4 linked regions of the Homo sapiens genome follow. The protein of the gene in region 2 purifies or fractionates together with the protein of the main gene of each other region. This does not show direct contact. Each region holds a gene or a part of one and is shown on either strand. Other genes may lie near its edges. The genes, in order: NEIL3, ZNF212, ADO and EPDR1.

Region 1 (7,759 bases), on a different chromosome or scaffold from region 2:
AGACAAGCCTAGCCAACATGGCAAAACCTGGTCTCTACTAAAAATACAAAAATTAGCTGGGGGTGGTGTTGGGTGCCTGTAATCCCAGCTACTCGGGAGGCTGAGGCAGGAGAATTGCTTGAACCCAGGAGGTGGGGGTTACAGTGAGCTGAGATCACGCCACTGCACTCCAGCCTGGGAGACAGAGCTAGACTCTGTCTTGGAAAAAAGAAAAGGTGAGAATAATAGCATGAGCCAAAAAACAAAAGGTACAAAATATATTCTGGGAATAAGTACAATTTATCTTAATTTCGTAGAGTATTCATAGTTTTCAAAGTGCTTTCACATAAGCTATGTTGTGTATGGAAATTAGAGCAATCATATGCAGGTGTATAGAAAAAGTATTATTTATTGTCCATATGAAGAAAGTGAGTTTTGGAAAAGATAAATGACATATATATATATGGTTATCAAATAGCACAATTTAATAGATTTAGCAAATTTACTGAAATTAGTAAATTGGACTTAAGAAGAAATTGTGAAGGTTCCTCTGGTAAGAGTGCACAAGAGAAAATTCAAGGAGGATAGCAGTTAGCAGGATCCTGACATAGTCCAGCTGAAATGTAGCAAGGGTCTGCACTAGGGTAGGCTTGCTTGCAATGTTGTGGGCTCTTTTTACAGACAATGTAGATACACAGCGTATGCGAGTTTGCTTTTGATTGGACGTAAGAAGCAAGATCAAAGAGATATACCAAAGGACTCAGAGGCTAGTCACATATAAACAAAATCTGGGCCAGGTGCAGTGGCTCATGCCTGTAATCCCAGCACTTTGGGAGGCAAGGCGGGTGGATCCCTTGAAGTCAGGAGTTCAAAACCAGTCTGGCCAACATGGTGAAACCCCGTCTTTACTAAAAATACAAAAATTAGCCAGGCGTGGTGGTAGGTGCCTGTAATCCCAGCTACATCGGAGGCTGAGGCAAGAGAATTGCTTGAACCCAGGAGGTGGAGGTTGCAGTGAGCCAAGGTCAGGCCACTGCACTCCAGCCAACAAAACAAAACAAAATCTGACTCCGCCTTTCAGTCACGCCAGTGAAATCTCTTAATGCCTTCAGTGTCAGTCCCCAACTCTTACTAATTAAAGATCGTATTTGACCCAAATGTGCACAGTACACAACACCTTAAAGAGAAATGAGGTGAATCAGATAAATGAACAGGTTGATATTTTTTAAATTTGTCCACAAGCTCTTTGATATCCCTCCTTTCAAATCACAGCTTAATTCCCCTCCCCTTGTGAATGCACTGTATTTAATGACTGGCTTCTAATGAATGGAATAAGAAGTAAGTTACCATAGTAAACTAAGTAATAAAGGGTGACTAAGTAATAAAGGGCATTGCAGCTTTCTCCTTGACTTCTCTCTTGGATCACACTCTCAGCTGCCATGTCATTAGAAGAGCCGAGCTGCACTATAGAGACACAAGAGGTGAGAAACTGAGGCCTCCTGCCAACAGCCATGCAAGTGACTCATCTCGGAAGTGGATCTTTTAGCTACAAAAAGCCTTTGGGGCACTTTAGCCTTGGCTAATATTTTAACTGTAACCTCTTGAGAAATGCTGAGCCAGGATGACTCTGGCTAGCTAGACTATTGCCAAATTCCTGACCCACAGAAACTTTGAAATAACAAATGGGATAATTGATGAGGTAACAATAAATAACTAGTACAACGCTGAAAGAGGAGAAGGTATATAGGACTTTTCTCCATCAAAGGACAGAGATTATTGAATTGAACAAGGGAGTAAAGTACAAATAGTCCTGAAATTGATCCAGCCAACTTTTGATCACTAATCTCTCCCTGCAAAGGAAAGATTTAATACTTTTCAAAATTTCAATCAAGTCTTCAGTATATTCAAATTCAACTCTCTAGTATACAGATGCTCCTCAACTTACGATGGGGTTATGTCCTGATAAACCCGTTGTAAACTGAAAATACAGTAAGTCGAAAATGCCTTTAATATATCTAACCTACCAAACATCATAGCTTCACGAGGCCCTCCTTAAATGTGTTCAGAACACTTACATTAGCCTACAGTTGGGAAAAATCACCTAACACAAAGCATATTTTATAATAAAGTGTTGAATAATTTATTGACTACTGTACTGAAAATGAAAAACAGAATGGCTATATGAGTACTCAAAGTACAGTTTCTACTGTGTGTCACTTTTGCACCATCATACAGTCAAAACACTGTTACGCTGGGGCATCCTAAGTCAGCAACCACCTGTGTATATGCTCTTGTGGTTTAACGGCAGCACAGTGCTATGCTTATGAAATCACTTAGAAATTGACATTCTGTTTTAATGTGTAGTATTTCAGTTTTCAAAAAAGAATACACTTTATAATTTACAAAACTATATGGAGTCATAAACTTCATAGATTTATATGTATGCATGCATCTTTGGTTAGGGTTGTGGGTAAATTTGAAAAGCTACGCATTACCCTCAAATTTATATAAACCTCTACGTTTAACAAAGCAATTTCATATAGCTTTCATCTTGGGGCGTCCCCTTACAAAATGGATGCATGCACTTAGGTAGGGCTCACTTAACTATCTAATAATGGAGTTTTTAAATATAGACACTAGAATATATTCTGCTGTTTGTTCCAAAAACCCTCTTCTTCGTTTCTCTTATCCCACCCACGTCCGAATATAGCATGCCAAAAACAGAGCCAAAAACAAGATTGTCTGTGACATATCTGTCCTGTCACAGACAAGGACAGATTAAGAGGACCAGATCAGAAAATGTGTGTATACTAAGTAGCTCAAAGACAAGGGCAAAACTTTAACGCAAAGAAAATACATTCAGAGCTTTCCAAGTCCCAATTTCTTCTGCTTTTACAGTTCAGCCTAGTTAGTTGTCCTCCACGCCCCCCGCCCCACGCGCGTTTGCGTTTTCTTAATAAACCCACAGCAAGACCTAGGGCGGGGGTGAACCACAGCGCATGCGCCGTAGGGAGCGACCTCAACAGCTAGGGTGCTGTTTGGGCGGGGCCTGGGCGGGGCCAGACGCGCGCGAGATTTGAATTTCCTCTGCGTGCGGTCAGTGCCCGCGCAGCGTTGAGTTGCACAGCGGTATTCTCACCAGGCCCTGCAATCGGTGGGCCACAGTGCCGGCCACAGAGATGGTGGAAGGACCAGGCTGTACTCTGAATGGAGAGAAGATTCGCGCGCGGGTGCTCCCGGGCCAGGCGGTGACCGGCGTGCGGGGAAGCGCTCTGCGGAGTCTGCAGGGCCGCGCCTTGCGGCTCGCAGCCTCCACGGTTGTGGTCTCCCCGCAGGTGAGCTACTCCTGTAACAGGCCATGCAGTCAGCAGGGGGGAAATGGAATAAAGACCCCATCAGGGTTCCAGGATTTAAAGTGTCATCTCTTTGCTCTGGCCCAGGTTTCCTGGGGTCCCACCTTTCACAGAGTTTATCGTCACTTTACTGTAGGGAGAAGTCGGTCCTAGCGCGCCTGCGCAGGAGAGGAGGGCTAGCGTTCTGGGCTCACGCTGCCGGAGCAAGATGCCCTAGGGGAATCCAGTGAAGGTGTTTTATCCGAGTCACCTTACTTAACTTCTTTATGATACACACATGGTTTCCCATGTCTACAGCTGCATTTTTTACTATTGATATTATCAAATCTCTGCTACCTCTGATATGTTTTCTTCGTCCCATTTTAAGCTTTTAGCATAAAATTCTACTTTCTTGCTTGGCTAATCTGCAATTGGTAAGTATATCACAACTAGTATATAATTCTAAAACTACACGTAGAAAATTTAGCACTAACTTCTCACTCAACTTCATATTGCCATCTAATTAAGGGGCAATGAAACCCAGTTCTGGTTCCCTTAAGTGAATTTATTTCTTTTTAAAGTAAACTAGCACAGCTTCTTGCCACTCAGGCATTCATTGCAGACGATGTGGTATTCATTTGGCCAGAACTTGTACTAAAAATATTCTGATTAAGGCATCATGTTTTAAAAGCCCTCTAGATGTATGGATGATTGTATTTCATGCCTACATGCAATATTGCACTGTATTTCAATTTCTTCTGCAAAGCTTCTTATAGCCTTTGGTCCTGGAAGAAAAAGTTGCCTGCTATGAAATTAGCATATGCTTACAACTTGAAAGAAATGAGGTTCTAAGTCTAAGAAAATATATTTTCAAACTTGGGAAAAAATAAGTTTTACATCTCCTTCCAATTGCCCTTTTGTTTATTTTGACTTGATATGCCAGTAAGTACTCTGTACCTATTTTTTTTTATTATTGTTATAGTGTTTCTAAAATCGTTTCAGGGTACCACAGAGATGGATTTTAGATGGTTTCTTAAGAATATTAATATTTATGAAAATTACTCATTCAATAAAATTTTGAATACTCAAGACACCTGGGGAGCAAAAACAAATACTTCCTCTTTTGGAGCCTATACTTCAGTTGGGAAGACACAAAGACATTCATTAAATAATCACCTAAAGAAATATAAATTAATAAGTTCTGTGAAGGAGAGATACACGATTCTTTAAGGACTTGTAGGAAGACCTGGGAAGGCTTCCCCAGGGAAGTAGCAAAGCTGAGGTGTGGGCCGGGTGCAGTGGCTCATGCCTGTAATCCCAGCACTTTGGGATGCTGAGGTGGGCAGATCGCCTGAGGTTGGGAGTTCAACACCAGCCTGACCAATATGGAGAAATTCCATCCCTACAAAAATAAAAAATTAGTCAGGCATGCTGGTGCATGCCTGTAATCCCAGCTACTCAGGAGGCTGAGGCAGGAGAATCGCTTGAATCCAGGAGGTGGAGGTTGCAGTGAGCTGAGGTCGCGTTATTGCACCCCAGCCTGGGCAACAAGAGCGAAACTCTGTCTCAAAAAAAAAAAAAAAAAAAAAGCTGAGGTGTGCAGGGTGAGTAGAAGCCATGCAGCTCAGGGATTGGAACAGGAAAAAGACTGAAAGAAAGCCAGAGTAGACACTGCCCTCTCATTTAGGAGTCGACTGCAGAAATCCAGGTGACAAATTTGGGGTCAAGTGCTGGTGGTGGAGATGAAGACAAGAGAATCACTATGATGGGAGGGCTAAGCAATGGATATGACATGAATATACTTAGGGATATCATCATTTACATCATTCAACCACAACGTATTTTGTGTTAGGTTTTATGCTAGCTCCTGCGGATACGAAGATGAGTAGGATATGCTTTCTGCTGTGAGAGTCCAACCTAATGTTTTAAATAAATATCACCTCATTGGTATTTAGGAAAAATAGCTTAAACATTTCCTTTTAAGTTTTGTTGTGATTATCTCTGATGGTATGGCATGAGATGCTTTTACATTTCATTCAGTCATGAAAAAGGATAACCCTATGATAAAGGATTAACCTGATTCTACAGATGAGGCATATGAGGCTCAGAGTGACTTTAAGTAAATTTGCCCAAGATCACATGTCTAGTAAGGGGCTAAACCAGGGTTTGATTTTTCTTTAAAACTCCAAAGCCTACCCTCTTAACCATGCCATAGCTCCTCTCAGCCATAAAAGATTCAGTAGGATCTTTATTGCTTTTTTAGCATACAACGGTAAGAACACCATAATGCTCAGTATATAGTAGTGGTTATTTATTAAATAGAAAAGTGCAATCTTGGATTTTTGGCTGTGTCTACCACCATTTTTAGTTTTGTTCGGTTGAGTCAATTCTCTTATATCTATTCTGATAATTCTCTTCTAACAGCTTCTATGGCCATGTTTGGATTGCACAAAAGAGTGCAGCCTGATAATATAATACAAATGCGTCAGTAATGGTTAGGCAATTATTAACATCACTTGGCAGCAATATTCAATAAGTTATACCCCACACATAAAAAGCCTGGCATTTAAAGGTATTATTTTTGATACCTTGATAGAAAGAGGCATTAAAAATTGGAATAGGTCTTTGTGGTTAGTATCAGGAATCTGGTTCTATGGACACTGGATTTTAAAATCAATATGGAAGGAATACATTCTTTGAGGCTGTTGGTAAATTTCTAAATAATTTACTATGGCTTCATTTTCTGGGACTTTGATCTGAAAAAAAAAACATAATTATAACCTTTTGTAAACATGAAGAGTCTTTTGCATTTTAGAGGGATCCATAGTAAATTTCATTAAAACATGGTAGGTTGTCACAAACCTCTGGCAAGATCATTACTGTAGCAGATGATCCCATGTCTCCTAGGCATTTATGCCAAAGAGTTAAAGCTATTTAAATGTTTCTGCTACTGGCTTGAAATGATTAGTTTTCACAAGGCAGCATTTAAAAATAATTTAATAACTGCATACTGCATTCTTTACAGTGCAGTAAACATGGAAAAAGTTACTAATGAGAGCTAAAGAAATATTTAATGGGCATTCAAAATAAAATATTTAAACCTCAGATAATCATACCAAAAAACAAACCAAAAAACACTACTTCAGTAGTTATTGCCATAATGGACTGTTACTGTGTCATATAGCATTCCTCTTTGTTACAGTATAAAGTTTATAGAGAACACACTTGAATGCATGTCTGCCTGTGACAACTGATCCTCATTTTGAGAAAACCTAGCCATAGAAGATCCCAGCATCTGCTAGTCATGGATGTACTATATTATTTTTCTGAGTCGTGATCCACTGTCTTGTCAGCATAAAATTGTGCAACAGTATAAGCAAATTGCATAAAACTCTGCTGGAGATTGTGGAAACTTATGGTAAGAAACAATATTGGAATATAAATGAACATATCTGGTTAATGAGCTTTGAAGAGTCAATCCTTTGATTTTAATTGTTGGGTGGATACAATATTTTAGTGAAATCATATTTAATCTGCATGTGTTTTCAATCTCACAAAACAGGATATGAAACAGTTTATAAGCATTCATTTTATTTGAAACATGGTCTGATTATTTCCATCACTCCTTAAAATTTGATACATGTATTTAATATGCCAGCTATTTATCGTTATATATGCTTCACAGTGTCAGGAACTGAGGAGACATTTAATAAAAGTTGAATGGATGGAGAAGAACAAGGTTTTGAATAGTGCAAAGTGATTAAAGATTTAGAAATAAATTCCATTTGGACTCTTTCATTATGAGAATGTGTATATTTTGTTGTGCATGTTATATGGAAATTCCTACTACCAGAATATAAACCAGGTAGTAAATTTTCCTTCTTCAAAGTGGGGGAAAAAAATCGTGGCTCATTTTATTGCCATTATTTAAAGAAATGAGCTAATCTACAGAGATTCATTTTCCAGCAAAATGAGGCTCATTTCTTTAAGCATCTGAAGGGGATTTCTAAATAATTTAGAGAACATGCATTATATACTTCCTTACCTTCTTAAATGGATACTAATAATGATTTATCCTTAATGACTCAAGATCATCATTATTGGTATCCAGAATCCTATGGAATCATGAAACAAGGGATAACAAAGAACAGAAACATTCTTACAAAGGAGGAAAAAGGGGAGGTGATTTTCCATGGCCATTGTAGCTTTTTATCCAAGATGAACATATTCGGCATGCTGCAGAGAAGAGAGCATCTGATCATCTTGATTTTGAATTCCCATTTTTTTGTTACTTCCTCGTCTGGAGATGCTTATTGTTGCATCTTAGCTTATTTGGTCAGGATTAAATTAAGCAGCATGTAAAATTCTTAGCTTAGTACCTAGCAAAATAAACATCCTGGGAATTGTTCCTTTTTCTTCTGGATCAGAGCTTTCTCACCAGACCCATT
Region 2 (6,946 bases):
ACCTGGCACTTCAGCCGTGGGAAAGCTCACTCTAGGCTACAGAGGGCTATGGAAGGGGAACAGAATATTCCAGAGCCACTCACCTGGGTGGGCACCACCAGGACCTTCCTCTTCCAAGTCACCCAGCATCTCTGTACCCAACTCCGCTTCTCCCTCTGTCTGGCCAAGGACCTCTGGGTGGGAAACAGCACAGTGTGAGCCCAGGAGAGAGTGAAAGCTCACTGCACACTGATCAGCTGCCAGTGACCAAGATGACCAATGGCAGGGAGGAAATATAGATTCAAAGGCTACTGTTCTTGTCAGTTTCCCCTAGCAGTTTGGGACAATTATAAAATTCTGGCCAATCATAACAACTGACTTGGCTAGCTGCTGCCTCCAGTGCTCCTCCATTAGAGGGGCTGTGGCTCAGGCAGGCAGGCTACAGAGCTACCACTGCCCTTGATGGCACCACCACCCACCTCTGCCTCTCCATGTGCGTGCAGCTTAAGTCTTGCCAATGCTTCCTTTCAGGGGATCTAATTTCATCCTTGCTAAGGCACTGCAAGGTAAGATGGGCACTGGGACAGACAAGGAAACAGTCACAATGAGAGCATGTGACCCAACCAAGCTTACAAGGTCACTTTTCTGGCCCATTTTCTATTTCCTTTACCTCCTACTCTGCTCCAGGCACTTGACACTCCTCCATGTACCTAGGTTTTAAAAGACTTTGTCTACCAAACAAAACACATTTATTATGTAATAGGTAACATTTTGCATATAAAGACTTATATCTATTAAGCAGCACTCCTAATCAACAAGAAAAAATCACTGAGACCACAATGACCAGCTATAATTCCGGCCAAACACCAAGAAAATGCTTTTGATCAGCCTGTGCTGCCTGCCTCATCCAAGGTAACATAGGGTTATCAAATCATCTTTTTTTTTTTTTTTTTTTTTTAAGCAACAGAGATCTCACTATGTCGACCAGGCTGATTTCGAACTCCTAGCCTCAAGCTATCCTCCCACCTTGGCCTCCCAAAGTGTTGGGATTACAGATGTGAGCTACCACACCCATCTCAAATAGTCTTAAATATTAAAAACAGCATGAGAGGCCAGGTGCGGAGGCTCACGCCTGTAATCCCTGCACTTTGGGAGGCCGACGTGGGTGGATCACTTGAGCCCAGAAGTTCAAGACCAGCCTGGGCAACACAGTAAGACCCACGTCTCTACAAAAAATTTAAAAAATTAGCCAGGCGCAGTGGCATGTGCCTGTAATCCCAGCTACTCGGAAAACTGAGGTGGGAGAATCATTTGAGCCCAAGCTGTCAAGGCTGCAGTGAGCCGAGATCGTACCACTGCACTCCAGCCTAGGTGACAGAGTCTCAAAAAAAAAAAAAAAAAAAAAAAAGATAAAACAGGCCAGACGCAGTGGCTCACACCTGTAATCCTAGCACTTTGGGGGGCTGAGGTGGGCAGATCACGAGGTCAGGAGTTCAAGACCAGCTTGGCCAACATGGTGAAACCCCATTTCTACTAAAAATACAAAAATTAGCTGGGCGTGGTGGCAGTCACCTGTAATTTCAGCTACTCGAGAGGCTGAGGCAGGAGAATCGCTTGAACCTGTGAGGCAGAGGTTGCAGTGAGCCAAGATTGTGCCACTGCACTCCAGCCTGGGCAATAGAGCAAGACTCTGTCTCAAAGAAAAAAAGAAAAAAAAAAGATAAAATAAATTAAAAAACAACATGAGGAACCCTAGCCATATCACACTATAGGGTATATGACATTTTATTTATTAGAAAATACTATCAAGAACAGACTATGTGACCACAGGAAAAAAAAAAAAAAAACACAAAAGGCACAATGCTGCGAGCTTTCCAAAAGTCTCTGTAAATGGGAGGACCTAGAGACTGGCATTTCTCCACCCGTGCAGGTCTGTAAATGGGAGGACCTAGAGACTGGCATTTCTCTGCCCGTGCAGGCCGACAGAGGACCCACAGCCACAGGAGCCACAGGTGTGGTCTGAATTACAGGCTGCCAGCCAGGAATTGTAGTATGTCTGAGACAGAATTCTAGGGAGAAAACTGCTACTCACTCAGAGAGACCAGTGTCTCATAGTTACTCTCCATCACGTTTCTGTAGAGCTCCTTCTGCCAATCCTCCAGATTCTCCCATTCCTGCTCGGTGAAACAGACGCCATCATTCTCCAGTGACCTGGACACCTGGAATCACCAATGGCACACCATGAGTGCTTCTACTCACAGCTATGACAGAAAAGCCAGCAACTGAGGTGCTTACATATTAAAGGGCTGGCTCCCCCTTCTCTTCTAACTTTTAATCCTCAATGAGACTACCTTGGGGGCCTCCCCCTTGCTGCCCGGGGGCAGCCGCAGGATCCAGAAGTTCCTGTTGCGCAGCAGGTTCTCCACGTTCTCCAGCCGCCTCTGCAGTAGCCCATACTCCTGCAGCAGGGTCCCCAGCACGGCCCACTTGCCCTCCAGCTGGTTCCCGAACTCCACGGCCATCTTCTCGCAGTCAGCCAGCTTCTTCTCGGCTGTCCCCGTGCGCCCCTCCAGGCTCTGTAGCCGGGCAGCCTGGGACTCCATCTTCTTCTCCACAGCCTGAATAGCGGCCACCACCGTCCAGAGTGAAATCTCGGTGGTCTGAAAATAGGAGCTTTTCTCTGTTGCTTGTGAAGGAAGTGTGGAAGAAGTTAAAGGTGTGGAGCGTCGTTTTCTCCTGTGCTGATGGATTAAAGACACAGGGTCAATGTCACTTCCAAACATCAAGTAAAGAAAGCAGTGTTCAAGTGTATCAGTGCTCAGAGTTATCTAGTTTCTTTTAATTAAAAAAAAGCATGTCTTTTATTGATACTAAAAATTATACATAGATATTGTATTAATAATGTTGGAAAATGATGAAGAATAGAAAGAAAATATTACACAAAATCTTCTCACACACAATAAGCTGTTAGGGCTGGCCGTGGTGGCTCACAACTGTAATCCCAGCACTTTGGGAGGCCAAGGCAGCTGAATCACTTTAGCTCAGGAGTTTGACACCAGCCTGGCCAACAAGGCAAACCCTGTCTCTACAAAAAAGTTCAAAAAATTAGCCAGGCATGGTGATGCATGCCTGTAGTCCCAGGTACTTGGGGCACTGAGGTGGGAGGACGGTTTGAGCCCAGGAGGTTGAGGCTACAGTGAGCCAAGATCGTGCCAGTGCACTCCAGCCTGAGTAACAGAGTGAGACCCTGTCTCAAAAAAGAAAAAGAAAGAAAGAAGCTGTTTGAATTTTGGTGTATTTCTAAAGTTTTTTTTCATCTTTTAGTTTATTTTTTTTCAACAAAAGTGAAATTATAGCGTGTATGTTCTGTTACCTATGCTTTATGCTTAGCATATTCTCTGAGACTCCTGTATCAGTGTTCATTTTTAAACCTATTTTTATTTAATGTTTTGGACTATATGATAAAAGATGTCACTTACATCTTATCTTGCTTCCACATCCCTGCCAGACTTCATAGTTGATCATGTCACCCGTTTGAAAACTTTCAATGGCTCCCCACAATAAAGACAAAATTCCTTAGCAGGACCTACAAGACCTAATTCATTCATCTTTGCACTCTAGCAGCTGGGATGGTGAATAAATCCTTAAAAAATATTTACTGAAATGATGTGACTAAGTCTACTGACATTTTCCTTATAATTTTCACTTTAATGAGCTGTCTCTGACAGTAGGAAAATCACTGTCATAGAAGCTAAAATTACTGAAACCAACACTGGGGAAGTCTTCCCCAAGCTGTCCCCCTACTGTCTCCCTGCACGTTCACTTCAGTCCTAACCCCCTCTGCAAACTTCACTTTATTTGAATAAAGCACACACTTTATTCAAGGCTGCTTCTCTAACCACAGTGAGGCCACCAAGACCGAGACACTAGAGGAAATATCTCGGAAAGAACTGCTGGGGCCAAGGGTTGTGGTCCAGAGAACATGGGACAAAAGGAAACTGACTGGTGCAGAACTGAACATTTAAGTTTGGCCATGACCTACTCTAGTTACTCAAGTCAGTTAATTCATCATGGAACACATGAGACAAAAGCTTAAATACATCCTCCTGCAAGAGATTAAAAGAAAAGTTCAATGTAAAAGACAAATACAAGCGAAACAAAACAAAATATTAAACTGGATATATGCATGCCATCATGTTTGTTTTGCTTCTACTTTAAGTCTGTGAGTCTCCTCTTTCTGTGGCCCAGCATTCTGTGCTCAGTAGCACTTTTTCTAGACAGGAATGTAGGTGAGAATCTGTGCAAAGGAATAAGCCCCCTCCTCTTCCACATAGTAAGAGGTTGAAAAGAATGATTAAGCTAGTTTCTTCTTGTCTTCTGTTTTGAATTATCTAGCATGATGGGAACAATTCAAATGTTCACGAACCAGTCAATGGATGAAAAAATTGTGATCCATCCAGTGTTATGGGTTGAATTGTGTCTCCTCAAAATAATACAGTAAAACCCTAATCCTCAGTACCTCAGGATGTGATCTTACTTGGAAATAAGGTACTTCCAAGGGTAATCAGGTTAAAATGAGGTCATTAGGATGGGCCTTAATCCAATGACTGATGTCCTTAAAACAGAGGACCTTTAGACGCAGACACACACACACACAGGGAGAAGATGTCTACTATGGTTTGTCCTCACCAAAACCCATGTTGAAATTGTATTTCCAATGTGGCAGTGTCGGGAGGTGAAGTCTCGTGGGAGGTGTTTGGGTCATGAGGGCATATCCCTCATAAATAAATTAATGCGCTCCCACAGGGGTGAGCTGTCATTGGCAGGAATGGATTAGTTCCCACTACAGTGGGTTGTGAAACAGTCTGACTTCTTTGGTCTCTCTCTTGCCTCCTCTGTCACCATGTGATCTCTACACACACCTGCTGCCCTTCCATTTTCTGCCATGAGTTTAAGCAGCTTGAAGCCCTCACTAGACACAGCTGCCCAATCTTGAACTTTCCAGCCACCAGAATTGTGAGCCAACTAAACCTCTTTTCTTCATGAATTACCCAGCCTCATGTATTCTGTTACACCAATACATAATGGGCCATGTCAAGATTAAGGCAGAGACTGGACTTATGCTGCCACAAACCAAGAAAACACATGGGACCACCAGAAGCTAGGAGAGAAACACAAAACTCATAAGGAACCAACCCTGCAAACATCTTGATTTCAGACTCCTAACCTCCAGAACTGTGAGACAGAATTTCTGTTATTTAAGCTTCCCAGTTTGTTACACCAGCCCTAGGAAACAGACACACTATATAAGACACTTCATTATATACCGTATTATATATTTAGTGTATTTTTCCTATATAGCTTAGAAGACTACTAAGCCTGCTACTTAGTAGTAGACTACTACTTCGACTACTAAGTCTACTACTATGTAATAAAAAGGAACCAAAATCACTGACATGTTTAACAACATGCTAAGTGACGGGAATCAGACAAAGGTCAGGCACGGTGGCTCATACCTATAATCCCAACACTTTGGGAGGCTAAGATGGATCACTTGAGCCCAGGAGTTCAAGATCAGCCTGGGCAACAAAGCAAGACCCCCACCTCCACAATTTTTTTAAAATGAGCCAGACGTGGTGGCATGTGCCTATAGTCCCAGCTACTTGGGAGGCTGAGGATGGGAGGATCACTTGAGCCCTGGAGTTCAAGGTTGCAGTGAACCATGATCACACTACTGCACTCCAGCCTGAGTGACAAAGTAAGACCACTTAAAAAAAAAAAAAAGAAGGGCCGGGCATGGTGGCTCACACCTAAAATCCCAGCACTTTGGGAGGCCGAGGCGGGCGGATCACCTGAGGTTGGGAGTTCGAGACCAGCCTGACCAACATGGAGAAACCCCATCTCTACTAAAAATACAAAATGAGCCGGGCATGGTGGCGCATGCCTGTAATACCAGCTACTCGGGAGGCTGAGGCAGGAGAATCACTTAAACCTGAGAGGCGGAGGTTGCGGTGAACCGAGATCACACCATTGTACTCCAGCCTGGGCAACAAGAGCAAAACTCCAAAAAAAAAAAAAAAAAAAAAGAATTCAGACACAAAAGGCTACATTTGTGTTTCATTTACATGTTTGGAAAAAAGCAAACTATAGGGACAGAAATCAGATCAGTGGTTGCCAAGGGCTAGGGATAGGAGAAAAATATTGATTATAGGCCAGGCACAGTGGCTCACACCTATAACCCCAGCACTTTGGGAGGCCGAGGAGGGCGGATTGATCATGAGGTCAGGAGATCAAGACCATCCTGGCTAACATGGTGAAACCCCATCTCTACTAAAAATACAAAAACAAAATTAGCCAGGTGTGGTGGCAGGTGCCTGTAGTCCCAGCTACTTGGGAGGTTGAGGCGAGAGAATGGTGTGAACCCAGCAGGCGGAGCCTGCAGTGAGCTGAGATCACGTCACTGCACTCCAGCCTGGGCAACAGAATAAGACTCCGTCTCAAAAAAAAAAAAAAAGACTGATTATAAAGGGATATGAGGGAACTTTCTTGGATGATGGAAATATTCTCTATCTTGGTAATATGCTGGCTACACATTTGTCAAAATTTGTTGAACTATCTGCCTAAAGAGTAAATTTTACTGTATGTAAATGGTATCTCAATAAACACGTCTTAGAATGTCAAAGTAGGAGAAAATGCTAGCTGTAATAAAAGATAACATAAACAAAGTCTAAAAACAAGGAGAGAATATTTGTAAACAGAATATGAAGTGGAAAAAGGTCAAGAACCCCAAAATAAAACTGCAGATTGTAAATCATTCATGGAAGCGGAAATGCAGGCAGTCAATAAACAAATGAAAACACAACCACCTTACAATCAGGAATCCAAATATAACTAAGTGAAAGCACGTTCACCCATCAGACTGACAAACATGAAACAGACACAAAGAATAACATTCAGAGCTGACTAT
Region 3 (7,690 bases), on a different chromosome or scaffold from region 2:
GCTGGGATTACAGGTACACTGATTTTAATCCAGAAATGTAAACATCCCCAGATTTGGGTTTGAAGATTCAATATCTATAAGGGACTTGACAAATGGTTTCCTTCTTTGACAACAGATGCCTCATTGCAATGGAAGTGATCAGTGATTGGCTTCTGTATATACGCTTAAGTTATTTAGACCTGCAATTACAAAAGTAGCACTGCTCTCAGGTTAGAGTTGGAAAGCAAGAGGCAAGCCCTGAATTAAAGATATATTGCTTCTTCACTGGGCTGTAGAGCTAGAGCACAAGATTCAGAATCAGTAACAGATGAGTAATGGCAGAGTCCTCCCGAGATGCCAGGACTGAGGCACCTAGAAGGAGACAAGGAAAAGGGGGAATAAAAGGTGTGGATTTTGGAAGAAGTTCAGGGTTACTGGTGTTAAAAGCTCAGAAAACCCTCTCCTGTTGCCAAAACACATATTACTTAAAAAGCAGGCTACCACTTTCATTAATAAATAGCAGTTGGTGTAAATGCAACCCATTCAAATCAGGCTTAGTAAAAATCAATTCTCATAAAATAGTAAGTAGGTACACAATACTCTGCATTGATATAACTGGCCAGTGACAGAACCAGATACTTTAAAAGCTTCAGAAGCATTTAGACAGACAATTTCTCACCCATGAGGCAATTATTGCATTTATTATTCACCATAAAAGTGATTAATATCATTGTGCTCATTAGTCTTTCCAAGGGGAAGATAACTTTTATCCCACAGTTGTTATTAAAACATTATCTATATTGGACGGAGTATATAGAAACACAATAGCAACACACCAAGTCAGTCACGACTAACAGTTTATGCACACAGGTGCAAGATAGTTTCTGCACCACATTTTGTCTTTGTAATAAGCATATTCTTTCCTCAGTGGCTCACTAAAACAAGTTATATTTTGTCTTCACCACTAATTTACTCAGAATTTATTAGTGAACCAAAAGTTTCACTGTTCTTATTGAACTAAATCTGAGATATCATATTGCTGTTTTGGCCTGCAACAATTTCAGTTACTCTTTTGAAAAGCACCTTAGGTTTTTTCTTCCAAATTGCTCGTAATTGAAAACTTTAAAACTTCTTTTTTTCATAATGAAGTCATAATTCTTCCTTTATTACTATCCTACAGCCAGGATGAGTTTTCGTAGCTTTAATGTACTAAGTTGTATTATAACACATACATTGCTATTAATAATCTTGGTAAGCTAATCAACTTTTTGCTACAATATAATCCAAAAAAGTATGTGATTGATAACCACATTCATTACTGTGCTATGGAAAAAAAAACAAGATCTTTTATTTTGTGAAGTTTTCTAAGAAAATCATTTGCATATCTAGAATTTTATTTTCAAACTAAGTGGCATGAAGAACTGCTTCAAACTGCCCCCAAAGGCATTTTAAACTACACCAGAATGTGGAGCTACAATAAAACAATTTTAGCAACAATGCAGGAAATACTTGGTACTATGCCTGTGTCAGGTTTTATAATAAAGTGGCATGTCCTGTGGAATATCTTTTTGTGTTTTGTTTTGGTTTTATTTTTAAATCACTCACCAAGTATTTGCTTTTTTATACTATCTTAAAAACTGGGAACAAATACTCCCTCACCCTGGGTCTCTGTGTGCATAAAGAGGCAAAGGCACGTACTGTTTCTCTACATACGGGGTCAACATTCCACTAATAATAGCAAATCTCCCTTTATTATAGATATTAGAACTCTATTGCCACTTGGGCAAGTCAATCAAGAGGGCTTAGACGACAGCTGGGCAAATTTTAATGTGTTTATTTCTACAATTTCTTTTTATTAAAAGTCTTGTGAAAAAACGGAATCCTATAAATAGTAAAAAGGGAGAAACAGTGCTCCATGGCCTGAAGCAAATGGTGTCAATACATGTGTAAACAAGGTAAGACTGCTCGGACTATTAAAAGCACAAAAATAAAACTAGTCACAGATAGCAAGACTTCATTTCAGGAGTTGGGAGTGGGAAGTAGGAAGTGTTTAATCCCAAGTTTTGGTGCCCTAAAATGGCTAGTAGTATAGTTAATTCTCAATTCTCTAGCTGTGATCTTCTGTGCCTTCTATCTCTTCCTAAGGAAAACCACATTAGATGAACCCAGGGCTCAGTCATTTTAGGGAGAGGGTTGAGACAACACTGCCAGCAACACAGCTGGAATCACCCGAGTCGGGAACATTAAAGTTCCTGAGAGAATATGAAACAACTATCAACATAATATTTCTCCCTACTTTTACAGTAAAATATTGGAAGTAAATAAATATAGGGAATGCAACAACTGGCTAGGAGTGTTTTACATTCAGTTGTTTGGAAGCATAACACATTCAGCTCCTTTGAATCTTCCCGTTAGAAAATACAGAATTACTCTATCACCTTTTAAGGTACAGTAAGACAAGAAAAAAAGTCATGTGAGGATAATACAGTCTTTGCATTAAAGGTGAATCTGCAACATGAAATCTGCTCGACTCACAGATCTGGAGATTCATAGGGAAGATAAGCTCTAAGTGACCATGTCACAGAGATATGCAGGTGCTGAATTTCTTAGTAGATGCTGCCTGAGTAAACCAGATGTGGCTACTGGGCAAAGGGAGGAAAGAAAATAAATCTTGTCCTCTACATGCATAGTTATGTTGTGAGAATGATCCCCAAACTGAAAAAATCATTTAGTTTTCACAAGGAATTAATTAGGCAGGCCAGCTCACTTTAAACAGTAGCTCATCTCCTTAAACCTAGTTTTTACCAATGACTTGAACTAAAAACAATTCAAACCACTGGGTCATGCACAGTCAATAAGTTAAAAAACTATAAGAAAAAAAGGCATAAGGGCATGAGTGGAAAATAAACCCTATTTAACTAAGGGGTAGGGAGTGGGAGCAAGAAAACCACTTAGTATTTTGTATAGAATGGGGAAGAGAGGAAGATATTTTCATTATGGCTTTAGGATGGAAGCGCTTCAGATAGTCCCCTGCCCCATTCCTCCAAATCAAAGCCCCAGTGGCAGTGACAGTACCAGGAAACAATCTAGCCTCCCCGCCCACCCCGCCCCCATAACCGTGCCCGGCGGCTGCTGTCCAGTCGCCCGTGCTTCCCAAGGCTGCCGAGGAAGCGGCTGCTGCTCATTCCAGTAGATCCAACGCCCAGGCTAGGGGGTAGAGACACAGCCCTTGTGGTAGGGTAGGGCACGTCTTCGGCCCACCGCTCCTGGGCGCCAGTGGCTTCAAGGGAAGACCTTGGGACCTGGATAGGGTTCTCCCTCGCACCAGAAGTCATCGGCCTGTGGGGTCTCCAGGAGCCACACCTCTCGAGGCAGGTCACAGGCCGAGCTGGAGGCCTCCTTGGGCCTGACCGGCTCCAGCACCCGGTAATAGTGGCAGTCCCGGCCATCGTCCGGGTCGTAGGGCGGGGCCAGGATGTCCAGGAAGGCGGCAGGCCCTTCCACGGCGTCGATCTGGTGCAGGTTGTCCCGGTGCGGTGTGAGGATGCAGGGGCCGCTGGCCTCGGTGTACTCGGCCCGCGAACGCAGCACGCCCGGCCGCACGGCTTCTCGCTCCCGGGGCTGCAGCGGCGGCTCGAACTGCTGCTCGGGCGGCAAGGCCCGCGGCCGTTGCCCGCCGCCCGCGTCTAGCTTGTCCATGCAGCTGATGCGCACGGTGCCGTACAGCACCTTGAGCATGCCGTGCATGCCCGGGTGGTCGTGCAGCGGGATGGACGTGCCGCTCTTGAGCAGGAACACGCCCAGGCTGAAGCCGTCCGTCTCGTAGATGTGCATGTAGGTGACTGGCGGCAGGTTGGGCGGCAGCGGCTGCAGTGTGGCCTTGCGCGGGGCGATGTTCAAGTCCTCGGCGCGGAGCTGGGTCAGGAGGCTCTTCAGCTTGCTCAGGTTCTCGGGGAAGCCCGGCTGCATCGGCGCCTCCGGGCCAGAAGCCGCGTCGCGATCGGAAGCGCCGCGGCCGCCCCCGCTGCCCCGGAAGGTGAGGCAAGCCTGGCGGGCGATCCGTTGGATCAAGGAGGCCATGTTGTCTCGGGGCATGGTCGGCTGCTCCTCTGCGTGCCGGGACCGGCCCCCTCCTTTCCTCCGCCCCTTGCGGTCCCCGGCGGCCGCCACGGCTGCCCCCAGCCCGGGTCGAGGCGGGAGGCCCCGCAACCACCGGCCCGTCGGGCGCGCGGCACCGCCGCCAACCTCAGCAGCCACGCGCCCGCAACTGCCCGGCGCGCTCGCCTTGAGCCCCCTCTGAGCGCGCACGCGCACGCCCCACACCCCGCACTCACGCTCCGGGAGCAGATAGCGGCCGCGCAGACGGTGCCAGGCTTTGCCTTACGCCCGGCGCTCCATTCATGCGGCCCGCACCTACGACGGTGGCCGGGCGCCCGGGGACCCTGCGGAGCATGCCGGGACTTGTAGTCCGGCCTTCCGCTTGAGCTCTGAGATAGTTCAGTTTGTTGATTGGAAAATAGAGGAACTATTACACATGTTGGGCATAAAGCGATCTTTTTCAGGATGCAGAGGTGTTTTTCTTGTTTTAGAAAAGATGAATCGGGGTGGAAGATTAGTAGCCACTTGACTACAACTCCCGGCACTCCCCGCAGGGTGGAGTGACGCACTTCCGTCAGCTGGCCCCCGGAGTAGTGGAGGCTCTTGGCCTTCATAAGGAAAGGGGCAGGGAGGGTCGTTAACCTTCTGGCGCCGCGCTGGGGCCTGGTTAGCCATGCAGGGTCGCCTTCCTTTGGCCTTGCCCCTGGGAAGGAGGCTGTTGAGTCAGCCTTAGCTCCTCGTAGCGGCCTAGGCAGCACTGTCTCCCACGGGAATTGCAGGAGGGCGCTTTTATAATTTTGTGTTTCCTAGGAGGGGAGGGGGTCCAGGCCGTCCTCTGTGATCATCAAGGTTACTCGGCCCAGCTGGGCCCAGCTGGGCCCAGCTGTTGTTTGCATCAGGACCTGATGACGCTGCTCTTCTGGTTACAGAGCAGTATAGCTTTTTGCTGGAGAGACTTGAGAGGCCATTTACAGTGGTCGTGGATTCTGAACATACTAGTGGTTATCAAATCTTGGTTTGCCTGAGAAGGGGGAGCGGGCTTTTATAAATGCAGATTCCCTGTCGTCACCCAGAGATGGAGTTACTAGATGGTTCTGAGGCATCCTAGGAGAAATAGTGGTGTGCAACAGTCAGTTCAGTCAGTAATTGTGAAATTGTTTCACTACACAGAGGCATCCTTCTCCTTGGCGTGAACTAACTTTTGGCATAAGTAAATGACTAGAAAAGCAAGACATTAGATACTATGACTTTAAACTTAACCCTGAGTTTAAAGTCTTTTTGGATTCCAAAGCTGAACATGGGTTTCTTGTACATTTTGTAATTGGAGTGGTTCAGTGAATCCTCTCCAGTTAAAATAGGCATACTTTTTAAAGTGGATTACATAACCTGGCTAATGAGTACTCACAATATGCCAGGCACTGTGTTAAGTGCATTATATAATGAATGTTATACTATTTAATCCTTGCAGCAACTCTTAAGAGGCAGGCACTATTATTATTCCCAGATTGCAGATGAGGGAATAAGTTGTAGGATAGTGAATACTAAGTACCCAGCAAAGCATGAGCAGCAGAGCAGAAATAAGTACAGTCTTACCAAAAACAGCAGCTTGAATTGGTGTAAAAGCACCAAACGAGAGTCAGGATATTGTTGTTCCAGCCTACTGTGTGTACTTACAAGCTGTGTGTCGTTAGGCAAATCCTACCCTTTTAGGGCCTCAATTTATTCATTTGTAGAATGCCGGTGTTAAGGGAACAAAAGTTCTGAACCCTACTCATCAGAACCCCCTGGAGAGCTTAAAAAATAAAGATCTTGGGGTCACACCTCAGAGATTTTGATTCAGAAGAACTGGAGTGAAGCCTATTTTTTTGTGTGTGGTTTTTTTTTGTTTGTTTGTTTGTTTGTTTTGAGGGGTAACAAGGTTTATCGTGAAGAGCGAAATAACAAAGCTTCCACAGCTTGGAAGGGGACCACAGCGGGTTGCCCCTATGATTTATATTTAAGATGCTTCCTCAAGCAATTATTATTATTATTTTTTTTTTTGAGACGGAGTCTGGGTCTGTTGCCCAGGCGGGAGTGCACTGGTGCGATCTCGGCTCACTGCAAGCTCCGCCTCCCGGGTTCACGCCATTCTCCTGCCTCAGCCTCCGGAGTAGCTGGGACTACAGATGCCCGCCATCACACCCGCCTAATTTTTTTTTCTGTATATTTAGTAGAGACGGGGTTTCACCATGTTAGCCAGAATGGTCTCGATCTCCTGAGCTCGTGATCCGCCCCCCTCGGCCTCCCAAAGTGCTGGGATTACAGGCGTGAGCCACGGCGCTCGTCCAAGCGATTCTTGATCATTAGCTCAGTTTGAGAACCACTGGTAGAGCTGTAAATAGTGAACCAGCTTTCATTAGTTAAGAGGGTGGTTATTTGCTTTAGGAAAGGATTGTTAAGACTGATTCATTTTTAGAGGTTGCCATGCCATTGTTACGTTATTTAAATGTACTTTCAAAGCTGATAAATAAATTTCATACAGTCTTTTTTCTAAAGTGAGAAGTATTTGAGAGTAAAATTCTTCCCCTTCCTTTATTTACAAATATGGACTTTTATTTATTGGTTTTACTTCTATTAGGGTATAATTAGTGGTAAGTATAGACTCCATGGAACACAGACTATATTAACATGCAGATCTCTTGCACTTAATGGTTGTCCACACTTACTTAACTGAAGCTCAAAATTTTCATCTATAAAATGGGATAATATACCTGTGTAAATCACTGATGACACTATGTAGAACATAGTAGCTGCCCCATGACAGTAGCTATTATAGGTTTAAAATGGCTATAAGTTGTACTTAAAGACCAATGAATTTAAATAATACTAAGCAAGTATTGAAATGGAATTTGACTTGTTTTGAGAATCAGCTTCAGGGTAGAGATAAAAAAGATTATTGCTTAAACCATTTACCTGGTAATTTGCTAGTCATCCTTTGGCCTGAGTTCAAAGTTTCCGAAGACTGCCTGTATCAGAATCACTTGGGAGTGTCTGTCAAAAGTGCAGATTCCCAGATCACGTCAAAACCTACTGCATCTGAATCTTTTGCACATTAAAAATTTTAAGAACCAGGCAGGCATGGTATGGTGGCTCATGCCTGTAATCCCAACACTTTGGGAGGCCAAGACAGGAAGATCGCTTGAGGACAGGTGTTCAAGGCCAGCCTAGGCAACATAGCAAGACCCCCATCTTTACAAAAAAAAAAATTAAAAAATTAGTTGAGCATGGTGATACACGCCTGTAGTGTATTCTGGAGGCTGAGGCAGGAGGATTGATTGAGCTGATGAGTTCAAGGCTGCAGTTAGCTATGATTGCACCCCTTCACCCAGGCCTAGGCAACAGAGTGAGACTGTCTCTCAAAAAAAAGTTTGTAAGAACTGCTGAGTGTCTACAGGGCATGTGGTACTTTTTTAGGTCACAAAGAGTCTACCTCCATAATTCCTTTTGATGTTGCCCTTCATTCAGAGCTGCACTAATGGGTGATATTGACTCTATGGGCTTTTGCCCTTAAGAAGCAGTTTACTTGCCCTTCTGCCCCACTGCCAGTAGCATAGGCTGAGTGGGTTTCTATTAG
Region 4 (7,218 bases), about 110 Mb from region 2:
ATAGCATGGTCCGGGACTGGGAGGGGCGCTGCGCCCACCGAGGGCGGCCTGCTGGCGGGGGACTCAGTAACACCCAGCGAGGCGGTGGCAGGTAAAGAAGGGACCCATCCAGGGCGGGATCAAGCTGCAGAGTGCCCCATGCCCAGGTTCGCCCCTGTTCTCACGCTGCTGAGTCAGGCTCTGGGCTCATGGAGCCCCCTGCAGTCTAGGGCGTGTCTTCTGCGCTATCTCATTTCTTTCTAGAGACATCTGCTAGAGAGGCACGCAGAATATGTATTTTCTAAGAAATACTTTTTGTATTTTAAAAGAATATGGCAAGATTACAAACGGTATGGGAAAGTGATAAAAAGAAAATTTCACCCACAAACTTAGCAAATTGTTACAGCATTAAAATTTTGGTCTACTCCTTTTAAGTTTTTTGTTTATTTTAAAGCAAATTTTACATACTATGATCAAAAGCCATACGTTATCTGAATCTTTTTTTAACTTAACATTGTCCCTTATATGTTCTTATTTGCCATTTTATTAGCTTGCCTCCTATTTTTAATGGCTGCACAGTATCGCTTACAGGGGCAAAGCTGTAAGTTTCTTTTAAGTATTGGTCTGACCATTCACCTTTTCACATCTGTTGTGACAAAGGAAACCCTCTTTTTGAGATGTCATCTCGCTTGTGGCCCCTTTAAGACCTGATTTCTAATTTGGGATCACCACCTGTCTCCCTTCCAGAGCCCTGCCGTTCCCCCTAAGTGTGTTCCTCTCACTGGCCTCTCTTTATGGCATTTGCATCATTAGGAGTTGCAAAGTGAATTTCCATGGTTTGAAACGCCAATGGACTGTAAGATCTATAGCAAAAGGGCACCATTAGTTTATAGAACAAAACCAAACTTGATAATATCATTTATTCTAAAAGCATTTGTTCAAGTATTAGGCGACTTGAAGAAAGTACGGAAAGGGCAGACCCTTTCAAACAATATCAAGGGTGCAAAATAATGCATTATGAAATGCAGCACAGAGCAGCACAGTCATCATGGTGGACTGGGAATTGATTCGAAGTCTTTCAAGAACATGAATGTTTTCAGTAGGGTCTTGAAGGGCACAGTAATAATAATAACAACTAACAGTTGCATACTTATTATATATGAGGCATGACACTGAGGACTTTACATCTATTATATAATTTAGTTTAAATCTCACAATAACTTGACAGTATAGGTTTTATGATCTCCATTTTACAGACAATAACTCTGAGGTCTAGGGAGATTAAGCAACTTTCTTAAGATCACACAGCTAATGCTTGAGGAAGCTAGGGGGGGGTTCTGACGCCTATGGTATACCAGGTTCACATTCATTCATTTATTTAACAAGCATTTGTTCATGTTAGGCACTGTGTATAAACAGAATGGCTCCTGGCTTTCAGGGAGGTCAGAGTCTGGAGGTGAAGTCACATAAATAAAAAAAATTTCCATACAGTGGGATGAGGGGTGAGAGCTGGGGTTGTGATGAGAAGAACTCAGTTGGGCACCTAACCCAGGCTTCCTGGAGGAGCTGAAATGAGAGTGAGTTCCAAAACACCTGTACAGGTTTTCCAGGGAGATGTGGAGAGACTGCTGGTCCAGGGGGATGCAGGTGTATCCATGCCTGGTATGTGTGTGCCATCCCGGAGTTTTTAGAGCTGAGTAAATTCCAAAAACCACAGACCACTCACTATTAGGGCTGAAGCCCAGGACATGGCGAAGGGTCATACTGAGGAGTTTTAAACAGTGGAATTTGTGATTAGATTATATAAAGATCCCTGGATGTGTCCTTAAGAATGCATTCCCAAGATGTGGACACAAAATGGAGCCATGTGGAGCAAAAGTGGAAGTGAGAACACAATCTTGGAGATTGTCGTAGTGGTCCAGGTGAGAGATGGGTAGTAGCGATGGAAATGGTGAACAGGGGGCAAGTGAATGCATTAGGGAAGTATTGAAGAGGTTCAACTGAGGAAAATGTACATGATTGGACGGGTTGTGGCAGGCGTGGTGAGGGAGAGGAAAACGTTAAAGAGGCCCCCATTTTTGGCTTGTGAAGCTAATGGTACTGATGGCATAGGGTAGATGGTGATGCTGTTCCTTGCAACAGGGCTTGACTTTGTGCACTTCTAATTAAGGGTGCATTGGTATCCTATGTAATTTTATGTGAAGACTTGTACAGTAGTGGCGCATTGATGAATAGTCATATTGAAGATGGACTGGGATGGCCGAGAGCACACTGCTGAAGCAGAGGAGTGTGTCAAAGAGAAGGATAAGGGTTCATCTCTCCAAAGGTAGTATTTTTTTTTTTACAATTAAAAAAATTAGACTTTAGAGTCAGACAAATCTGGATCTGAATCCAGACTCTGAATATGGGTCTTTGGGTAAGTTAATAAAGCTTTCTGAGTCTCAGTATCCTCATTTACAAAATGTGAATACTTATAATGCCTAATTTATTGGATTATTATGGGAATTAAATGAGCTCAAGTGTATAAAACATACAGTACAATGTCTGATAGTACGCACAAGATGCTCTGTTCATGGCCAAGGTTGGTCCCATCGCTACCACTATCATCATTATCCTGGTAAAGTTACCATAGCCCAGAGACTTGCTGCCAGCCCTTTGGGCTCAGAAACTTGATACAGCAGCACACACAGACCCTTCCTTTGGGAACAACCTTCGAGTAAGGAAACTCAAATGCTAAACCTGTCTACTTCAATGAGTCTTATTGCTGGCATGAGGACCAGCATTCTCAAATCCACCAGACTAGGTCATTCTCTCCCTGTAGTCAGAACTATGTGGGGAGCCAAATTATCATCAGGCAGTTGTGAGCAAAGAGTTGGAGCAAATTCATTGAGCAAACATCTAATGATTGCCTGCCCTAGGTTAGGCTGTATGCTCAATGTGGAGTTTTCCATCATGAATAAGACAGGCCAGCCTGGGGTAAGGTTTAATGGTAATCAGGCAAAGGCAAAGTGATGCATTGATTTTCACAATAGAGATGACTTGGTGGTGGTTCTGTGCTACCCCAACTGTGCTGTTCCTGACCCCTTCCACTCAGAATGGACCCTTGGTGAGTACTGCTCAAGTCTGTCTGAGCAACCCTTCTTCCATGACTCCATGACTGACTAATATAGCCTTTAGATGTGTGTTTTATACCTTTAGTGGAGTCACAGCCAACTCTTGCTGGCTTAGAAGCATTTTTGTCCCTTTGCGGTGATTTCTCATTCCTCTGCCCTAATCCAATAGGTGCTGGTTTCACAGTTAAACTTCTAAAAGACATTGTTTTCCCTTTCTTTCCGAGTTCTTGGCAAGGTTCTTTCTGACAGTCACATCGCTGGCCCTAAGTCAGATGTGGAAAAGAATGTTTAATGCATAAACACATTTTTAAGCTCTTTAAGTGTAGATTTGTTGGAACAAACTCAGAAACTTTTTCAGGTATTAACAGTCTGGCCAAGCAACCAGATGTTATTTGAAGAAAATATGGATGAGTTGTCTCTTCATATTTATGAGTAAGTTGAGAAGTAAGTTTTAGAATTGGATCAACTTCTTAAGATTTTCATTTTGCATCCAGATAGTTATGGAAAATCCCATTGATAGTTACTGTGGAATGACTAGGATTTTCCAGGCTCTGTTTTCCCTGAGATGATGGAAAAGATTAAACAACTTTACAAGCTTCAGATAAGACAAGCCTGAGCAGCAAATGGGAAATATTAGTAATTGATACCATTTTATTTTCTAATTCCAACTGTCTTTTCTGACTCCTTGATTAAATTCACAAGTATTTATTTGAAAGACTGAAGGAAATCAAGAAGATGATTTTCATATTTCAGGCAGCATGTTGAACTTTATAGGGGAAGCAGCGTTGATACACAATGAACCCTCTCAGGCCACCAGTAACTATAGGCTCCCCCTTACAAAATGGTGGCTTGGGTGTTGGAATCAATGAAGCTCTTAATGCAGAGTGAGCAGAGAGGCAGTAAAACAATATGCACAGTCTGGTATCTTGGAATATTATTTCATCACCAGTCGTACATGTTCTATTAAGGATTTGTATTTGTAAAACATGAAAAATATGTCACAAATGGGGCAGCAGGTGGATTCTTATTCAAATTCTGATTAATTCATGTCTGCTTCTCTTGATTCTCCCAGAGCATATTATTTCTTGGAGAAGAGAATAGCATTAACCTCTTTTTTAAACAGAGAATCAGCCTCCTGTAGTGGAGAGAGCAGGGGCATTCATGTTAGACCATGATGGAGTGACAACCATGGCTTCTAATCCTGCCTTCACCCCAATAAGGTCCTCAACATTGCAGAACCTCTGTGTTTTTCATCTTTTAATTTAATTTGAATGATGCCTACAATGTTGATACTAAATCACTTTTAGGCTTTCATTTGTTAAATGCTAGGTACAGATAGTATTAAATGATATCCTGAAGGCACCAATTGTACTTTTATTATATCAGGCTGATTCACTGTTTCTAATGCAATGAACTTGACACAGATTTTAAATTTTTTCTCAATCTGTCCCATTGTGTAGACAAATTAATTCAAAGTTCTTTTTCTTCCTTCTCTTTTTCATCTAAGCCTGTGCTTATGAGTAGAAAAAGAGAAGAGGCTACCTTGAAATGCCTCGGGCCCAAACTCAGAAGGCTCTGCACTCAACTGAGCCTCCCTTCCTACTAAGAATGGAATAGTGTTGCTTATAGGGGTGTTGGTCCAAGTATCAGCTGTGGATGATTAATTCCCAGGGCTGCTATCACCTAAGGTAACTTCAGTAATCTTATGTGTTTGGAAAGGAGGATGAGGATTATTTTTCAAATACATAATTTTGTTTTATTTTGAAACAATCTCACACCTACAGAAAAGTTGCAATTATAATACAAAGAGCTTCCCCCTCGCCTGAACTGTTTGATAGTAAGTTGCCAAACTGATATACCCACGATCCCCAAATGCTTCAGTGTATTTCCTCCCAGCAAGGACATTCTCCTGCATAACCACAATACAACCATAAAAGTCAGGAGATTAACACCAGTTCATTTTGACCATCTGAAATTCAGGTGTCATTCATGTTTTGCCAGTTGTTCTTTGTATGTTCTTCATAGCAAAAAAAAAAAAAAAAAAAAGATTTAAATGCAAGCATTACACTTAAGTGTGGTGTCTCTGTGGTCTCTTTCTGTCTGGAATAGTTCCTAAGTCTTCCTTGCACTTTAGTGCTTTTAAAGATTGCAGGCCAGTTATTTTGTAGAATGTTCCTTGATTTGGGTTTGTCTGATGTTTCCTCATAATTAGATTCAAGTTACTTACCTTTGGCAGGAATATCAGGGATAATACTCTGTTCCAATTGCATCCTGATGTTCACTTTGATCACCTGATTGACTGTTGTCTGCCAGCCTTCTTCACTGTGAAATGATACATTTTTTCTTTTTAATTAGTAAGATTTGGTAGGGAAATATTTTAAAACCATGTACATATCCCATTCTTCATTAATCTTCTGAATTATACTTTATTTGTATCAGTGTGGACTCAAGCCTTCTAATTTTGTTCTATTTGCTCTCGTTGTTTACTTTGCTGTTCATAATGTCCTAGATTTGGCCAGTGGAAGCCTCTTCAAATTGGTTTCTATGTTCTTTTGATGTGTTTGGGCACTTCCTTGCTTTCCGGCACAGCAAGATATTTCAAGATCATCTATACTTTTCCTGCCCCAGTCCTAGGATAAACCATTTTTCAAGAAGCCCTGGTTACTTTTCCTGGAGAATAATATGTGGAAGTTAGAACCTGTGCTCTGGTCATGCTCAGTGCTATCAGGTGGCACTGCTACCAGGTCCTCTCAATGGACAAAGCAAGGGGTGTTAAGTTTGAATACACACATCCCTCCCCACACACACTCATACATATATACACATTTACATCTATATTTATTTCTGAACCTCCAGTTCTAATCCATACAGGTGTTTAAACTGATGCCTTCATTCTAATCCAACACTACATGGTTCATTCTAGTTTTTTTTTTCCTTTCATTTTTGCTACTCCCTTCTCAGCCAGTGAGAAAACTGGCTTACTATTCAATTGCAGTAGGTAACCAGTCATGTATCATTACGCTGTCTCCTTCACACATGGGCTCTGCGCTCCAGGCCAGCCCATGTAGAAGCCTATCTTCCTTGGTCCTACCTAGTGGCTTTAGTCTAAATTGTTCAAGAGAAAGGAGTAGATGAAATTATGTTCTTAACATATGTTTGTATTGCTTTTGGATTCTCAGTATGTCATCATTACAAATCCTCAGAGGGTGTTTCTGTGTGACTGGGGGAGGCAGACTAATATAAAGTGCTCAATAAATCTATTTGATCATGAATCTTGTCTTGCATGGATTGGATTTTCATTTTAAGAAATCACGACTTTGTGAATATTAAGAGCATGACTTCTCCTTTGACCTTTACTCCATCATTTTGGTCTCAGATGGCTGGAGATAGCATATTCTTTTGTGAGCTGAGGAAGTCTTGACTGCTTGTGGCCTCCTGATCCTCAAAGAATAAACCATACTGATTTGCAATACTTGAGTTTCGCAATATTTGAGTTTTTCTTCAAGAAACAGATTTTCTTGGAAGCACACAAAGTTTGATTTAAGGGACTTAATTCAGTGTGTCTATAGACCCTGGATTTCAGACAATTAATGCTGAGATGGGGAGGGAGAAGCAGGCACTGGGGAAAAAAGATCCAAAGAAGATAAGCCCAGGAGAGTAAGGAGGCTGATGGAATGTAAGACAAATTTACGAATGGAAGCCAGAGGTGGTCACTATACTGCTTTGAAAACATCTTTACTTTCTCCAATAACCTTGAGCTGTTTCTTCCTGATTCTGACCTTGAGGATGGTGGTCAGGGGCAAAGTGCCCAAAGATCTGAAAATATTCCACCAATTAGTGGTTTGTTTTTCCTGGAATAAATATGATAGTCTTAGATTTCACCAATTCCAGTAAAAAATTTCTATTTTCCCCCTTAACATTTTCTTTTATTTTACCCATCTTTAAATAAAAAAAAAAAACTTCTCTTGATCTTACCAGCTGAAATCTCATTCTCCTCTTCTATTTAAAGCAAATCTCATGCTAACTACAATTTTTGTACTCCCATGCTCTCTTGAACACCCTCCAATCACTTTTGTCACCATTCTATTGAAAATACTCTGGTCAAAAGCAAGAAGCTCTACATTAC

Evidence for each region.
Region 1: the proteins of ZNF212 (region 2) and NEIL3 purify together in Homo sapiens (affinity purification with western blotting, with the first as the bait; one study listed by BioGRID). This does not show direct contact.
Region 3: the proteins of ZNF212 (region 2) and ADO purify together in Homo sapiens (affinity purification with mass spectrometry; 2 studies listed by BioGRID and IntAct, with this or other methods). This does not show direct contact.
Region 4: the proteins of ZNF212 (region 2) and EPDR1 purify together in Homo sapiens (affinity purification with mass spectrometry; 2 studies listed by BioGRID and IntAct, with this or other methods). This does not show direct contact.

What each region holds. Positions count from the first base shown.
Region 1 is NC_000004.12:177,306,796-177,314,554, forward strand, and holds the start of NEIL3 (endonuclease 8-like 3), read left to right. Parts: upstream 1-3,078; 5' UTR 3,079-3,158; coding exon 3,159-3,314; intron 3,315-7,759. UniProt on the Homo sapiens protein: DNA glycosylase which prefers single-stranded DNA (ssDNA), or partially ssDNA structures such as bubble and fork structures, to double-stranded DNA (dsDNA).
Region 2 is NC_000007.14:149,245,933-149,252,878, reverse strand, and holds part of ZNF212 (zinc finger protein 212), read right to left. Parts: intron 2,721-6,946; coding exon 2,331-2,720; intron 2,199-2,330; coding exon 2,072-2,198; intron 174-2,071; coding exon 84-173; intron 1-83.
Region 3 is NC_000010.11:62,801,444-62,809,133, reverse strand, and holds ADO (2-aminoethanethiol dioxygenase), read right to left. Parts: upstream 4,415-7,690; 5' UTR 4,075-4,414; coding exon 3,262-4,074; 3' UTR 655-3,261; downstream 1-654. UniProt on the Homo sapiens protein: Plays a vital role in regulating thiol metabolism and preserving oxygen homeostasis by oxidizing the sulfur of cysteamine and N-terminal cysteine-containing proteins to their corresponding sulfinic acids using O2 as a cosubstrate.
Region 4 is NC_000007.14:37,921,361-37,928,578, forward strand, and holds part of EPDR1 (mammalian ependymin-related protein 1 isoform 1 precursor), read left to right. Parts: exon of another isoform or gene 1-5; coding exon of another isoform or gene 6-91; intron 92-7,218. UniProt on the Homo sapiens protein: Binds anionic lipids and gangliosides at acidic pH.